Regions from separate parts of the Homo sapiens genome. Here region 1 is linked to region 2. Evidence: fine-mapped expression QTL. Tissue or cell type: whole blood. Region 2 holds a variant in brackets; the other region holds the start of a gene. All regions are shown on one strand. Distances are from middle to middle.

Region 1 (8,000 bases), 25 kb before region 2:
TTGGGGGTGCTTAGCATTTTATGTTTAGTCTACACACTTTAGTCCTTGTGTCCTGACTGCCACTCAAATAGACTCAGGACCTCAGACCACTTTAGTTAGCCAGTGGTGAAGCTAGCCATGACCTGGGTTTCTCCCTCTGGAGCACAGAATTCTCCTCTGTCCCAAGGCCTGCCTAAATGCACTGTCAGAATTCTAGGCGCCTGCAGAATTCTGTCCTGTGTTATGTTCCACCATGACGGGGCAGCACTGACTTCCAGTGCAAAGTCCCACACTCACTTTGCTCTCTCTCCTCCAAGCACACGGATTCTCTTTCCTGCTGTGCAGCCTGTGGTTGGAGGAGGGGTGGTATAGGCAATACAGGGAGATCTTCCCCCCTACCCCCACCCTATCTTCAATGCCTCTTTCCTTATCATTACGGTAAAAGTAGGCACTGTGATCACTCACCTGATTTTATGGCTTTTATGAAGGTGCTGTCTTGCGTGGATAGTTGTTCTATTTGGTGTTCCTGTGTGGAGAACTATCTCGGGGGGGGTTCTATTCAGCCATCTTGCTCCACCTCCGCCCTCTCTCCAGTCAGTCTTTAAACTGCTGGCACCGAAGCCTCCAGTGCCTTTCTCCTCTATATCCCATGGAGAGTTACTGAAGTAGTTCTTTTTGGATTTCAGTTGGCCTTTTAGTAGAGCCTTTCTCCTAAAGGATTAAAACGTGAGACTGCGGGCTTGAGCCAAAAAGCAGTCAGAGGGACAAATACTGGGTTTTACTTAGAATAACCCACCTGCCTAGTGCCAGCCTACCACTCTTGAACAAAACTTGTATGATTCCCGTGTCTCCATTTAGAATAATTTAATTCTGAGGAGACGCCTCTGTTTCTCCACTGGCCTCTGGACATGGAACAGGCACATGAAAATTACCTGGGGCAGCTATGGGTCACATCACCTCTCTTACTCTAGCCAGCCAGCAGGCACTTGAAGTTCGCAATCTGATGGGCTGAATTTCTGAAAACAATAACAAACACAATGTCACTTATTTTTTATTCTCTAAATTTACAACCCATTAATATACCTCCCTGTAAGCTGTCTGATTTTGAAAATTATACATGATAAAATCTTTTTATTATACATAAAAAAGAGTTCTGTAGTTTGTATTAATAGAAAATTGGTGTCCAGACATATTTTACCAAGTAAGTACAAAATAACTAAAGAATATCCATTTGAAAGATACAAAATTATTATCCTGCTAGGAGCACCTTGGTGTCAAGGTGACTTCAGGGAATAATCAGGTAATTCAGCTCCTTGGCCGGAGTGAAGAATGGAATGTTGAGGCTGGAGAACTAAGCAGGGCTCAAGAGGGGCCTGGTGCACTAGGCTAGGTCATTTGGGCTCAATCATGAGGGGACAATTGAGGCAGCATTAGCAGGAAGGTCAGGTGACCACCAAACTTTCTGCCAGATCTGAGTTTCTTCTCTTTTAGAAATGCAGTATTTGTATAAAAATGAAAGGCTTACCAAAGGTCACATTTTAAATTATAAAGAAAAAAAATCATCTTTTTTTTTTTTTTTTTTTTCTGAGATGGAGTCTGGCTCTGTTGCTCAGGCTGGAGTGCGGTGGCGTGATCTGTGCTCAACCTCCACCTCCCAGGTTCAAGTGAATCTCCTGCCTCAGCCTCCCAAGTAGCTGGGATTACAGGCACCCGCCACCACGCCTGGCTAATTTTTGTATTTTTAGTAGAGGCGGGTTTTCGCCATGTTGGCCAGGCTGGTCTTGAACTCTTGACCTCAGGTGATCCACCCACCTCGGCCTCCCAAAGATCTGGGATTACAGGTGTGAGCCAGCGTGCCCAGCCTCAAAAGTTCATCTGTGAGCCACATTTAGAAGGTAGATAAAAAATTTTGACTAAACACAGCTTAGAATCTATAAATTGTTAAACTTCAGTTCTGTTGAGAATCTTTGAGATCCATCATTCTCTAAATGTTTTCTACCAGAGAAACAGGACAATGGCTTGCAAATATTGGTTATCAGTATTTACTCTATAGCTCAAGCAAACAAACTTATTTGCACTTAAAATACAAATATTACCTACCTTGATTTGAGTGTTGTTGTTCTCTCTTAAATTTCATTTCCCAAAAATGATGGCAAAAGTACTGTTTGTTTTAACTTGACCCATCTTTTGCAACCCAGCTTAATCATTTCACAGATTCCCTTTTGAAATAAATGGGCTAGATGATCAGACAATAGTGGCAAATGTTTGTCATTTCAATGACATATGCAAGAGATACCTTTAGTGAAATTTGTATATCAAATTTCCCTTTGTGCTCCTTTTTTCCCTAGTGAATTCAGCATTAAAGTGTTTATAAATATTTTTGGTTTATTATTTATTAATTCAAAGCAAAGAATGCCAATGTGACCATAAATATCTCATTTATATATCATAAATATCTCATTATAGAAATATGTTTAGAGACATCTGTTTTATTATTTTAAAGAAGAGTACATATTATATATTAAGGTAAAAATAGTACTAAAAAAGAGAAGGTAGTAAATAAAAAAATTCTAATGAACATAAAACATCATAAAAATTAACTTAATTAAAAATCAGCCAGGCACAGTGGCTCATGCCTGTAATCCCAGTACTTTGGGAGGCCAAGGTGGGTGGATCACCTGAGGTCAGGAGTTCGAGACCAGCCTGGCCAACACGGTGAAACCCTACCTCTACTAAAAATACAAAAAATTAGCTGGATGTGATGGGACATGCCTGTAGTCCCAGCTACTTGGGAGGCTGAGGCAGGAGAATGCCTTGAACCTGGGAGGCAGAGGTTGCCCTGAGCCAAGATAGTGCCACTAGACTCCAGCCTGGGCGACAGAAAGAGACTCTGTCTCCAAAAAAAAAAAAAAAAGTATAAAGATAAAATTTTAGTATATTGTGAATTAATTACTAGACTCAATTGTTATAGGAAGCTTTGTTTTTCTGGAGCTCTTATATTAAAATTATTAAAATCCTCACTGAAAAGTATAACATGTGTTTTCTTTAAAAGAAAGATATTCTATATCTGAATAAAGACAAACTTTGAACGAGTGGTATATGCCTTAATAAATATTGGAGAATATCTATTCTCCAATACTTAGAGAATGACGACAGCATCCTCCACATGGCGTTTTCATTGCCAGTCACAACTTTCCTCCACCTAGTGTTCTCTAGACTGAGACAGACCAAGGAACAATTCCCTAGACCTCCTTTGCAGAGCTAGGTTATGCTCAGACCATTTGCAGCACCAAGGACACTGCCATTCAGGTCACCAAAAAAAGATCATCTTGTGAGCCCTGTCTAAACCAGGCCCCTTCTAAAATCATTTCAGTGTGAAACTGAGTCCAGGTGGGTCTTCATCAGTATTAGAGTGGACCTGCCAGATGTATGCTTGCAGATGATGCAACATCAAAGCAAATGCCCTGGGCAAGAGAAGAAAGGCCAAAGCAATGGGCTTACTGGTTTCTAGCTTTGAGCCACTCTTCATAGTGCCAAATTCCCATTTTAGGGTCCCTTTATTTGTATTAATAAAAATAAATTCCCTGGGTGTAAGTTCCTGTAAAGTACTCCCTATCTGTATTCCTGGGCATGAAAGGGTGTTTTAGTTCCAATTCTAGTTTTCCCACTTAGAGGTTCACCTTTCTGACATTAATAATTAACCAGATTATCTGAATTCTTCAAGTTCAGTTTATTTAAAAGGAGACTATCCTCAAAAGTGTTATATCCGTGGTTTCCTGCTACCTCCAACCATGGGCCTTTTGGGAATACTTTGTTTTTTAATCTTCCTGGGGAAAACCTGGGGACAGGAGCAAACGTAAGTAAAACAAGCTATCTTCATTTTTCAATGCATCTTAGTTATGACGAATGAAGAGTTAAATTTAACAGATTCTGTTAACTTGAAAATAACTTGCTACTTCTGAGAACAGCAAGTGAATAGTATCATCTCTGAATGAGAAAGTCATGGAAGCATTTTGATTTGATGAGTAGCTAACAACATGACAGCTTTTATGGAATTGTTATTTATTAAAATTTACGTTAAGTGATTATTCAAATTCCTCTTCAAAAAAGCACAAAAGAAACTCCAGATAATAAACTTTCTTGACATTTTTTGCTTATTTTAACTTGGTGTTTAGTTTTCTTTGTGTTTTTCATAGACTATACACAGTTAAACCAGGGTTATTTAGGAGTCAATCTAATACTGTGATCTGAAAATCTGTTGTTGTAGTGACTTCTACCATACATTTATGAGCTGACTTTTCACAATTTTTAGTGTCATTATTGAGATAATATGCATTTTAAGTAATGTTTTAAAAATAATGATCTTATATCTAGAAATATTTTAATACTGAAAAGTAACTGCAGATCATCTAATCAAACCTATTCATTTTATATATGAGAATAAGTCCAGATAAGGGAAGTGACTGACCAAAGGTCACAGTTCTAGAGAGAGAGAAACAGGATTTTTATTAAGGTCTCCTGTTTATCACTTCAATTTTTTTCATTTTGTCATAAATGTATACATGTAAATATATTATATATAAACACATACTTAGGATGTCATTCTTTTTTAGCACCCTCGTATTTCTGATCTGTGATCTTTTTACATGGCCACAAGCACTCAACTACCTTAGCATCCTGCCTTTATTCTTTTTGAAAGACGAGCAGCTAAGGCTTAGAGAGACTGAAATTAAGTGACTTCAAATTGGTGGCAGAACTAGGGCTAGGACCTGGGTTCCATGATTCTTGTCCAGACTTATTCTGAATTCTTTCTACTAGCCCTTAATAAAAATTATTTCCTCACTTTCTCTGAAGAAGTCAGAGTGTACCATTTACAACATGGCAATCAATCACTTTAATTAATTGGTTGATTGATTGATTCAACAAATATTTATTGAGCATCTAAACATATGATAGGCACTGCAGATATAGCAAACGGTAAGACAATTCCTAGAGCTTGCATTCTAGTGGGAGAAGCAAGTAATGAATGAATGAACCAATGAAAGAATGTGTAAGGTCAGGTAGGTAGTATTATGAAGAAAAAAATAAAGCAGAGTATGAGAATTAAAAAATAATTATGGGGCACTATTTTAAAATGTGGCCAGGAAAGGTTCTCTTAAGGAGGCTGCACTCAAACAGAGCCTGAAGGAAGTGAGGAAGCAAACCATGCAAATATTTGAGGAAAGAGCATTCCAGATAGAGGCCAAAATAACATTCTTGCCTCTCTGCAAGCTCCTGCTCCTCTGCAGCAATTGAAAGACAAAGAAAACTATGAAATTATTTATATGGATAGATTATGCTACTGATAAGTCAATAAGAACCAAAATCTTTATAAAGGGTGGTTCCAGAATATTCTTTTAGGGGCTTCTAAACACTATGTATTTTTGCTTGACGGCTACCATCACATAGACCAGCAGTCCCCAACCATTTTGGCACTAGGGACAGGTTTTGTGGAAGACAATGTTTCCATGGACCAGGATTGGGGTGGGGATGGTTTCAGAATGAAACTGTTCCACTTCAGATCATCAGGCATTATATTCTCATAAGGAGCTTGCAATCTAGATCCCTCGCATGTGCGGTTCACAATAGAGTTCATGCTCCTAGGAGAATCTAATGCCACCACTGATCTGACAGGAGGCAGAGCTCAGGTGGTAATGCTCCTTTGCCCCACTGCTCACCTCCTGCTGTGTAGCCTGGTTCCTAACAAGCCATGGACTGGTATTTGTCCATGGCCCAGGGGTTGGGGACCCCTACCATACACAATTCAAAATTAAAGCAATACTAAACTTAAAAACATAAAGCTTCTATAAATACTGAAATTAAAGTAGCTTTATATCCCTAAATTTTTCTAATTACAAAACTCTTTATAAATTCCATTTAGTACAACAGTTGAAAATGTTAATTCTGGAAACGGGCTGCTCAGGTTCGATTTCTAATTCTATAATTTGTGAATTATAGAATTCATAAATCCTATATGTGTGGCCTTGGGAAAATTAATTAGCAGTTTCTTCACCTTAAAATTGGAGTAATAGTTCCTCACAGAGTGGTTGTAATGACACAATGAGTTTATACAAATAAAGTATTCAGAATAGTGCCTTATCACAGGGCAAAATTTCAGTAAATATATCTTATTATCATAAAAACTGAACTCCTCTCATTTTCTGCCATCTCCTACTAGGCATGTGGGGAAGGGGAATTCAGATGATGGTTGGAAATCTGGAAATTCTTTCCTCTCTTTTGTAATTTGCCTGTAAGTGGATCCAAATTAATTGTAATGCAGGATAACTGTCAGATGCTTTAAAGGATTTAATTGCTGATAAATTAATTCCATTGTTACTAAAAACTTCCTGCTTTTACCAGACTCTTAAAATGTCACAATGTTGGCAGAAGCCTGGAATAATTCTGCCAGGTGGGGTGGTGGGTGCCCTCCAAGCTTGTTGGGCCACTTGAATTAGTCGATCACTATGCCCTTTTGGGTTAAAACACTTTTTTTTCCTATGTAATAGCGTATGTAGTTCTCGCTATTCAAATTAGATACTCTTGTGATATACACTTAGTAATCCAGTTTATATTTGTAAGTTTTTAAATAAAATAATTTTTAAAAATCACTCAAAAGCATGTATAGACTCACTTCCATTATTGTATAAATCACATGAAAAGTAAAAATAAGAGAACAGTCTATGGTTGTGAATAACATATAAACTTGACCTCAACTGTACACATAACAACTGAGAACTCATATAAAGGCCTCCCCCATTTACTTACAAACCGTATAACCTTAGCCAAGTTAGCCTTTTACCACTTGCAAAGTACGAATAATGATAGTACCAGCATCATTGGCTTATTGTAAAAATTAACAAGAGCTGTATGTAAAGTGCTGATACAGCCTCTGATATGTGGCAAGTACTTAATTACCATTATTGTTTGAAGATGATGATTTGCTCTTAAAGGACCATCATCACTATTTCCATTTCCAAATGCACTTCCCAGCTCACTCATATTCTATCCTTTCCGTTATCCGTTTACTAGTATAACATAGTATTTCTAAGATCACTCCCTTTAAACTAATTTAGTGAGATTAATAAATCTTAACATGTATTGAGTACTAAGAGTGCTAGACCTTTTCATATATATGTTCTTATTTAATCTTTACCAGAGCCTGGTAAAGAAGGCGATTATTTTCACAGTAAGTTATTTTAGCCTCAGAAAGACTTAGTGACTTTACCACGGTCACTCAGCCAGCAGATGCCACAGCTGGAATTCAATCACTGCTTTTTTCTTCATTGAGCAAAAAATATTGACCCCATTTACATGTTCTGGTCAACATGATTAAAAGTCTTCCTTGGCTGCAGTAGCTAAGAGAAAGTGCTGCTATCACCTTAACTTTCTAAATGTAAACTAAACCTCCAGCTTCTCAGGTCTTAATTCCAAACTACTTGGAAATTATGCTGAAGTTATGGTGGGTCACAAGTACATTTTGACTTATTAGTATCATTTTTAAGTGAGGAAATATATGTATTTTAAATGGAATCTCTCAAGTGAGAGAAAAAAATCAAAAGTAAAAGAAAATATGTCATATAAAGACATTGAGCCTTATCTTTTCCTTTTTCAACAGATATGTCATTTCAGCACCAAAAATATTCCGTGTTGGAGCATCTGAAAATATTGTGATTCAAGTTTATGGATACACTGAAGCATTTGATGCAACAATCTCTATTAAAAGTTATCCTGATAAAAAATTTAGTTACTCCTCAGGCCATGTTCATTTATCCTCAGAGAATAAATTCCAAAACTCTGCAATCTTAACAGTATGTATTTATCCTTTATTTTCTTTATATATATATACAGAATATTCTCAATAAAAATGTGTACAAAGTTTGAATATTGATAACATATAGATTTAATCATTTACATCCACTGTGGGATTATTAGATGATGTCAGTCACTAATGATAATGTAAGTGAAAATTCTAACAGAAACAG
Region 2 (8,000 bases):
AAAAGAAAACAGAGAGTAGCTGATATCAAAATTATCAAGGAAGTAATTTGGCATATAGGAGAGGGCCCTGATTCTAAGTCTTGTGATCTCCCCAAGATCAATTTTTTTCATCTAGCACATAGCTTTATTAATGTGGCTTTATGAGGATGAAATGTAATAGTGCATGAAGGACACTTTATTTATTATTATTATACTTTAAGTTCTAGGGTACATGTACACAACGTGCAGGTTTGTTACATAGGTATACATGTGCCATGTTGGTTTGCTGCACCTATTAACTCATCATACATTAGGTATTTCTCCTAATGCTATCCCTCCCCGTCCCCCACCCCATGACAGGCCCCAGAGTGTGATGTTCCCCGCACTGTGTCCAAGTGTTTTCATTGTTCAGTTCCCACCTGTGAGTGAGAACATGCGGCATTTGGTTTTCTGTCCTTGTGGTAGTTCACTCAGAATGATGGTTTCCAGCTTCATCCATGTCCCTGCAAAGGACATGAACTCATCCTTTTTTATGCCTGCATAGTATTCCATGGTGTATATGTGCCACATTTTCTTAATCCAGTCTATCATTGATGGGCATTTAGGTGGGTTCCAAGTCTTTGCTAGTGTGAATAGTGCTGCAGTAAACATACGTGTGCATGTGTCTTTATAGCAGCATGATTTATAATCCTTTGGGTATATACGCAGTAATGGAATCACTGGGTCAAATTGTATTTCTAGTTCTAGATCCTTAAGGAATTGCCACACTGTCTTCCACAATGGTTGAACTAGTTTACACTCCCACCAACAGTGTAAAAGCGTTCCTATTTCTCCACATCCTCTCCAGCATCTGTTGTTTCCTGACTTTTTAATGATTGCCATTCTAACTGGTGTGAGATGGTATCTCATTGTGGTTTTGATTTGCATTTCTCTGATGACCAGTGATGATGAGCATTTTTTCATGTGTCTGTTAGCTGCATAAATGTCTTCTTTTGAGAAGTATCTGTTCATATCCTTTGCCCACTTTTTGATGGGGTTGTTTGTTTTTTTCTTGTAAATTTGTTTAAGTTCTTTGTAGATTCTGGATATTAGCCCTTTGTCAGATGGGTAGATTGCAAAAATTTTCTCCATTCTGTGGGCTGCCTGTTCACTCTGATGGTAGTTTCTTTTACTGTGCAGAAGCTCTTTAGTTTAATTAGATCCCATTTGTCAATTTTGGCTTTTGTTGCCATTGCTTTTGGTGTTTTAGTCATGAAATCCTTGCCCATGCCTATGTCCTGAATGGTATTGCCTAGGTTTTCTTCTAGCGTTTTTATGGTTTTAGGTCTACCATGTAAGTCTTTAATCCATCTTGAATTAATTTTTGTATAAGATATAAGGAAGGGATCCAGTTTCAGCTTTCTATATATGGCTAGCCAGTTTTCCCATCACCATTTATTAAATTGGGAATCCTTTCCCCATTTCTTGTTTTTGTCAGGTTTGTCAAAGATCAGATGGTTGTAGATGTGTGGTGTTATTTCTGAGGCCTCTGTTCTGTTCCATTGGTCTATATATCTGTTTTGGTACCAGTACCATGCTGTTTTGGTTACTGTAGCCTTGTAGTATAGTTTGAAGTCAGGTAGCATGATGCCTCCAGCTTTGTTCTTTTTGCTTAGGATGAAAGACACTTTAAAGTGCCTCAAGTGCTTTACGTAATTTCAAATTGTTACATTTTATCTGAATCCTGTTATTGTAACCATGTTAGTAAAACAGTTTTATGCTATTGTCTGACAGATATTTTTATAATAAAGTAGTCACTGAGGCTGACGTTTATATCACATTTGGAATAAGAGAAGACTTAAAAGATGATCAAAAAGAAATGATGCAAACAGCAATGCAAAACACAATGGTAAGATGTTAAGACACAGTCACTCACACCTACAGATGCATCCAGAGGTGAGAGATGAGAAGTTACTTAAAAACCATCTAGTCCAATCCCCCATTTTAGATAGGTTGAAACTTAAAATCCTCCATTGGCTTCCCTTTGCCTTTAGGGTAAAGTTCATTTTCCTTGGCATCAGCCTCCCTTACCAGCTGATCTCATGCCCTTTCCTCCCTCCCTCCCCTTTGTATTAATCACTCCAATTTCTCTAACTGACCAAAGTCTCTCTTGCCTCCAGGTCTTTACAATATCATTTATTCTGCTTGAAAATGCTCTTTCCCATTGTCACCTCCTGCCCCTTCTTTGCCTGGCTAATTCCTTCTCATTCTTTAAGTTTCAACATTGACAGCCTTTCTCTGGGAAGCCTCCCCTGACTCTTCTACACTAGGTTAGCTGCCCCGGCTGTATAGCCTCTTTTCTTAACACATTCTTCACATTTCATTGCAGCGGTTCTCAACTAGGGGTGATTTTTTATTCCCAAGGAGACATTTGGCAATGTCCAGAGACATTTGTGGTTGCTACTGGTGTTTACTAGGGAGAGGCCGGGGATGCTGCTAAATTCCTACCATGCACAGGGCAGGCCCCTACAACAAAGAATTATCCTGTTCAAAATGTCAATAATGCTGAGGGGTTGAGAAACCCTTCTTTACTGGAATGGCTTGTTTACTTATCTATCATTTTCAATATTAAACTATTTGTGAGTCTGAATCATTTCCCTTATATGCCCAGAGACAGCATAGTTTCTTGCAAGGAAATATTCATGAAGTTATTTGTCCATAGTTTAGGGCTAATGATTGCTGGAACTGAGATTAGGGCGCTGGTTCCCTTTCCCTTATTCAGCATTCTTTACATTATACCACAGATGATATGAGTTCATGTCATTTTTGCTCACTTTTTCGTATTCATTTGGTTTGCATCATCAATCATTTATCCTCTACAATCTTATTAATTCAAGATGTAAATTAAATGCATTTTTAAAATGCAAAATTCTATGCTAGACACTGGGATGTAAAGCTAAATAAGACAAAAATGCCTGCCCTCAAGTCGCTCAATTTTATAAGAAAAAATAAGGCAAAGTTTATTTTACTGTTGTGTTAATAATTAAATAATATAATATGACTTAACCCCACATCCCTTTACTCATTGTGTGTTTTAAAATTAGTATTTAAATTTGTAAGCAGTGAAGTACAAATTAAATATTATAAAAACCAACAAACTCTCAGTTAAGGGCGGAAGTACGCTGAGAGGCCTATAAAGATGAATGATGACGCAGGAATTGGAAGAAGTCGTGTTTGTCAGCTATTACCAAAAAGACCTGTTGGACCATGTGATGTTCAAGACCCTTCTACTTCTATAATTCTATACAAATAATTAGAAAATAACATCCTGGGCTTAATCGTGGACT[C/T]GGTTATCTACTTTACTTTTGACACTAAACCATTCTTCTGACATTTACCTTCAATTTAGAGGTTAGTAAAAGCAGATTTTATTAATTTTTCCTTATAAGTTCTTCTCCGAAATAACTCCTCCTTTTTCTCCTTTTAAAAAGTTGATAAATGGAATTGCTCAAGTCACATTTGATTCTGAAACAGCAGTCAAAGAACTGTCATACTACAGTTTAGAAGATTTAAACAACAAGTACCTTTATATTGCTGTAACAGTCATAGAGTCTACAGGTAAGTGTGTGTGTGTGTGTGTGTGTGTGTGTGTATACTTTCTTTTGAAAAATATTTAGACAGAATATTAAAGATATAAATAATTTCCAATTTCTATAATTATTTCACATTGTATTTTCTTTCATAGTTAAATATAATTATAAGAAGTAGACTTTTATATAGTTATAAAAAGGCAGTAGGGCTCTGCTTCTTTTTAGTCATTGGACAAGCCATTGGGTCCCTATTACCTCCACTTCTACTGCAAAAATGGGAAAACAGTACCCAATTCATGTCCAAAGTAGTTCTGCAGGCTCTCTGCCTTGACCATTTGGCACCCTAGTGTCCTCACGTGGTGAAAATCAAAACCAAAATAAGATTATGTGTGTAAAACTATTTGATAAAGTACTATACAAATAAAAGTTATTACTATTATCATTATTATAGTCTACATAATGATGGAGTCAAACTGAATGTTTCCTAAAGCCTAAAGTTTTCAACATTATTTTAATGTTTCTTCTTTTTATTTTTTCCTCAACTTATTTTAAATAAGTTCAGTTTAAGCAGTATCTATGAGATATTTAAAGTATTGCCAAACAGACAGGCTTGCAAACATTAATGATGTATGATGCCAGCACTAAAGTGGCTTACAAATTAGCATCAGGTATAAGACAGGTGAAGAAAGAACTGTTGCAAGAAAGAATTCCATATGAGCTCTAAGCAAAATATTAATGCAATAGGATTCAGAGGAAGGTGAGCTTCTAGATGATTGTTGAGCAAGCAAGAACAGTGTTGTGAAGATGATCAGTCTTGAAAAATAATTAGGGTTTTGAGGCAGAGTTGCTAGACAGGGTGAAATAGAAACCCTCCAGAGAGAGGGCAGATGAAGAAGAGTAGATGGTGAAGCTTAATCTTTGAGGACAGCAGATCATCCAGTTTGGCTAAAATATAGGATATGTATAGAATGTATTAGAGATGTAATATTGGAAAGGAGTTTGGGAATATTAAAGCTTCAAATGTTATTCTTAATAGTTTAACTTAATCTTTACCTGGAGGATAACATTATTGGGCTCTTGCCAGTTGTCTGGTCATGTCCCCTTCCCTCCCCCTCCCCCCTCCCGCTCCCCTCCCTCCCCTCCCCCTCCCCTCCCCCTCCCCTCCCCCTCCCCCCTCCCGCTCCCCTCCCCTCCCCCTCCCCTCCCCCTCCCCCCTCCCACTCCCCCCTCCCCCTCCCCCCTCCCCTCCCCTCCCTCCCTCCCCTCCCGAGTCTTGCTCTGTTGCCCAGACTGGAGTGCAGTGGTACAGTCTCAGCTCAATGCAACCTCCGCCTCCTGGGTTCAAGCAATTCTCCTGCCTCAGCCTCCCGAGTAGCTGAGATTACAGGCATATACCACCATGCCTGGCACTTTTTTTGTTTTCGTTTTTTAGTTTTAGTAGGGATGAGGTTTCACCATGTTGGCCCGGCTGGTCTCGAACTCCCTTTCAGGGTTCTTTCTATATCAAGCTCCCTTTTTCTGATTTCTCTCTATGTATCTATGCTCTGTGAACACCAACCCCCATCCCCCACCTCCACTTCTGTAAGGCTCAGTTTCTGGCCTGACCCTTCCCTCTCTCCTCAATCCCTTGAATACAGTCAACTGAAACTCAGGCCACTGATGAAAAGTGGTGTCCCTTCCTGGCATCCTTCCTCAGTCCAGTCCTGTAGCTCTACTTCTCCAAGGGCTTCTCTACATACGAGCTTGTGCATAAGGCCTTGGAAACTCCTGAGGTCTAAACTCTTCTCTGCTGTGCCCCTCTGAAGCAAGACCTATGTCCTACTTACTACTGGTAAATGAATGAATGCAAGAATGGAGTGAGTGAATGAATAAGTCTGTGGAGACATATAGAGATGAAATGGATATCCATACAGATCATGATACTCCTAAAAACTGTCAACATGATGCTTGCCATTTCCTTAGGTGGATTTTCTGAAGAGGCAGAAATACCTGGCATCAAATATGTCCTCTCTCCCTACAAACTGAATTTGGTTGCTACTCCTCTTTTCCTGAAGCCTGGGATTCCATATCCCATCAAGGTAGATTGGGTGAGGGGGTAGACGTTGCTACATATGATCATCTTGTTCTGTTCATGGAAAACATGTGGGTGGCAAACAGGGTAAGAATGTTGCCATGAAGTCACAGAGGGAGCTTATTCTGTGAAACCTGCCCCTCCTGGTGGACACAGACAGGGATGGGAAATTGAAGGTCAGCTGCAGCCTTGGCAATGACTTCAAAAGTGAGGGCAAGATAGCCTTGTATTAGGCATCCCTAAATAAGCATTAAATTACATGTAATAAATAAGCATTAAATTATATGTAAATAAAATCTCATAAGACTCTAGTTCAAAAATACAAACATTTAAAATTATTTGGTGGCAAATTCTTAAAAAGCCTTAAGATGGAGATATCATTCCTTGAAAATAGACTCCTTTCTCTCACTATGTTTTTGCCTCCAGTGTGTCTCATTTGTTTCCCTCTGTCTCTGTGTTGTCTTTGTGCATAACTCTGTTCAATCTCTCGTCTCTGTATTGCTCTCTGTTCTTTTCATTTTTGCTTCTTTCCGTCCCTGAATCTCTTTTTTTCTGTCTTTTTTGCTTACTCCTCTGCATTCATTTTTCTCTCTTTCACCTTCTTTTCCTCCTCTAAATGCTGACAGTATAGAATTGAAACATTCATGTGGTTTTTAGATTTTTATCTATCATTATATATTTTATTACAAATAATATATTTTATTATGTTGATTAAATGGAAATGTTTATTCCCTGCCCTTAATTTAGAAATCCAGAGCAAAATTTTTTTTTGTTCTTTGAAAATGTGTTACTTTTTAAAATCAACTTAAGTACAATCAAAATGTGTTATTTATTATTTACTGTGGGTCATGGGCTTTTAAGAAAAAAAAGGATTTACCAAGCCCAAAGCAAGGTTTGGACATGCTTGTAGGTTCTTACATATATATACTATATATAGAAAATAATATATAACAAAGTATCATATAATGCATATACAGTAATATATAATATATATACTAAAATATGTAAATATAGCAATATTATATAGAACATAAGCTTAAAATATGTTTATATAAAAGTAAAATAACAAACTATATCTGTGTGGAATTGTGTGTGTATATATATATATATATGGCAGTGAGAGGTAGATGTTAAAGGAAAAAAGGTGTATCTATTTTTGTTTCTCATATTCAAGGGACTTATTCCCAGAAGCGATTGCCTCATTTTCTCCTTTATCCAGTCCTAAACCAATCAAAGAAATACAGAAGTTAGATAGCAGAAGACCTTATCACACCTACTCCTTGACTGACTTAATAGAATGATATTTATGTTTTGAGTTTGCTTGATTTATGGGAGAATCTATTCAAGAATGATTTAACTAAATAGAATTAAATCTTTCTATAAGCTGAGAATACACTTCTCTTTACTAAATTAAACATAAGTAAACCAGGTGTGGTGGAGCATGCCTAAATAGTTCCAGCTACTTGGGAGGCTGAGGTGGGAGGATGGCTTGAGGCCAATAGTTCAAGGTTGCAGTGCGCTATGATTGTGCCTGTGAATAGCCACTGCACTCCAACCTGGGCAACGTAGTAAGTCTCTGTCTCAGAAAAAAAATTTTCAGAAAAAAATACATAAATAATTTATACTTTGGTGGGGAGGAAGGAAAATTATTTCAGAATTGTGCTTTAAAATAAGTGATGAGCTGTTGAAATAGATTTGGATTGTTTTGACAAACAGGTGCAGGTTAAAGATTCGCTTGACCAGTTGGTAGGAGGAGTCCCAGTAACACTGAATGCACAAACAATTGATGTAAACCAAGAGACATCTGACTTGGATCCAAGCAAAAGTGTAACACGTGTTGATGATGGAGTAGCTTCCTTTGTGCTTAATCTCCCATCTGGAGTGACGGTGCTGGAGTTTAATGTGAGCTGAATTCTCCTGTTGTATTTTCTAGGACAATGTGTACTCTTGACCATGTGTTTTGGCTAGTGTGCAGAACAGATGCGGCAGATTTTACACATGAGTCCAGTGAACAGTTCCATAATTTTGCATCCAAGACAAATTAGTCCCAGAGACAATCTGCTAATCCATTGAATGGTCCTTGAGGAAGATAAATGTATCAATTTTTTATTTGGGAGTTAATTGTTTTATCTTACACCGTTAAGACCATATCAGACTCTAGAAGCTTCAGAATAGGTATAGCAGTGCACATGAGTGTTAGGAATATCCTCTCTTCCCCCCTCACTTTTAATCCCCTGAAGGGCCACAAAAGGGTCAAAAATATGGAAGCCTCCCTTTTTTCTAACTACAGAAACCATTCTACTTTAGAGCCCACTTAATAGTCTTCTCTCGCAGCAAATATTATTTAAGTTCCCAATCTCAAATAAAATATGAGCAATAACATA

The links.
Region 1: C5 starts here. The variant in region 2 is fine-mapped to the expression of C5 in whole blood (INTERVAL, PIP 0.98).

Annotation. Positions count from the first base shown.
Region 1 is chr9:121,046,017-121,054,016 of GRCh38, reverse strand. It overlaps C5 (complement C5), which reads left to right and starts at 3,742. Exons shown (of 41, transcript NM_001735.3): 1 at 3,742-3,835; 2 at 7,634-7,826. The coding sequence starts at 3,771. It overlaps LOC124902261 (a long non-coding RNA gene), which reads right to left and starts at 1,160. Exons shown (of 3, transcript XR_007061753.1): 1 at 912-1,160; 2 at 445-690.
Region 2 is chr9:121,021,027-121,029,026 of GRCh38, reverse strand. C5 (complement C5) reads left to right here. Exons shown (of 41, transcript NM_001735.3): 8 at 1,753-1,867; 9 at 3,447-3,573; 10 at 5,508-5,623; 11 at 7,333-7,518. Among named protein-coding and RNA genes, the nearest start is that of C5, 25 kb to the left of the region's middle. The variant C/T (reference allele first, on the strand shown) is at 3,306.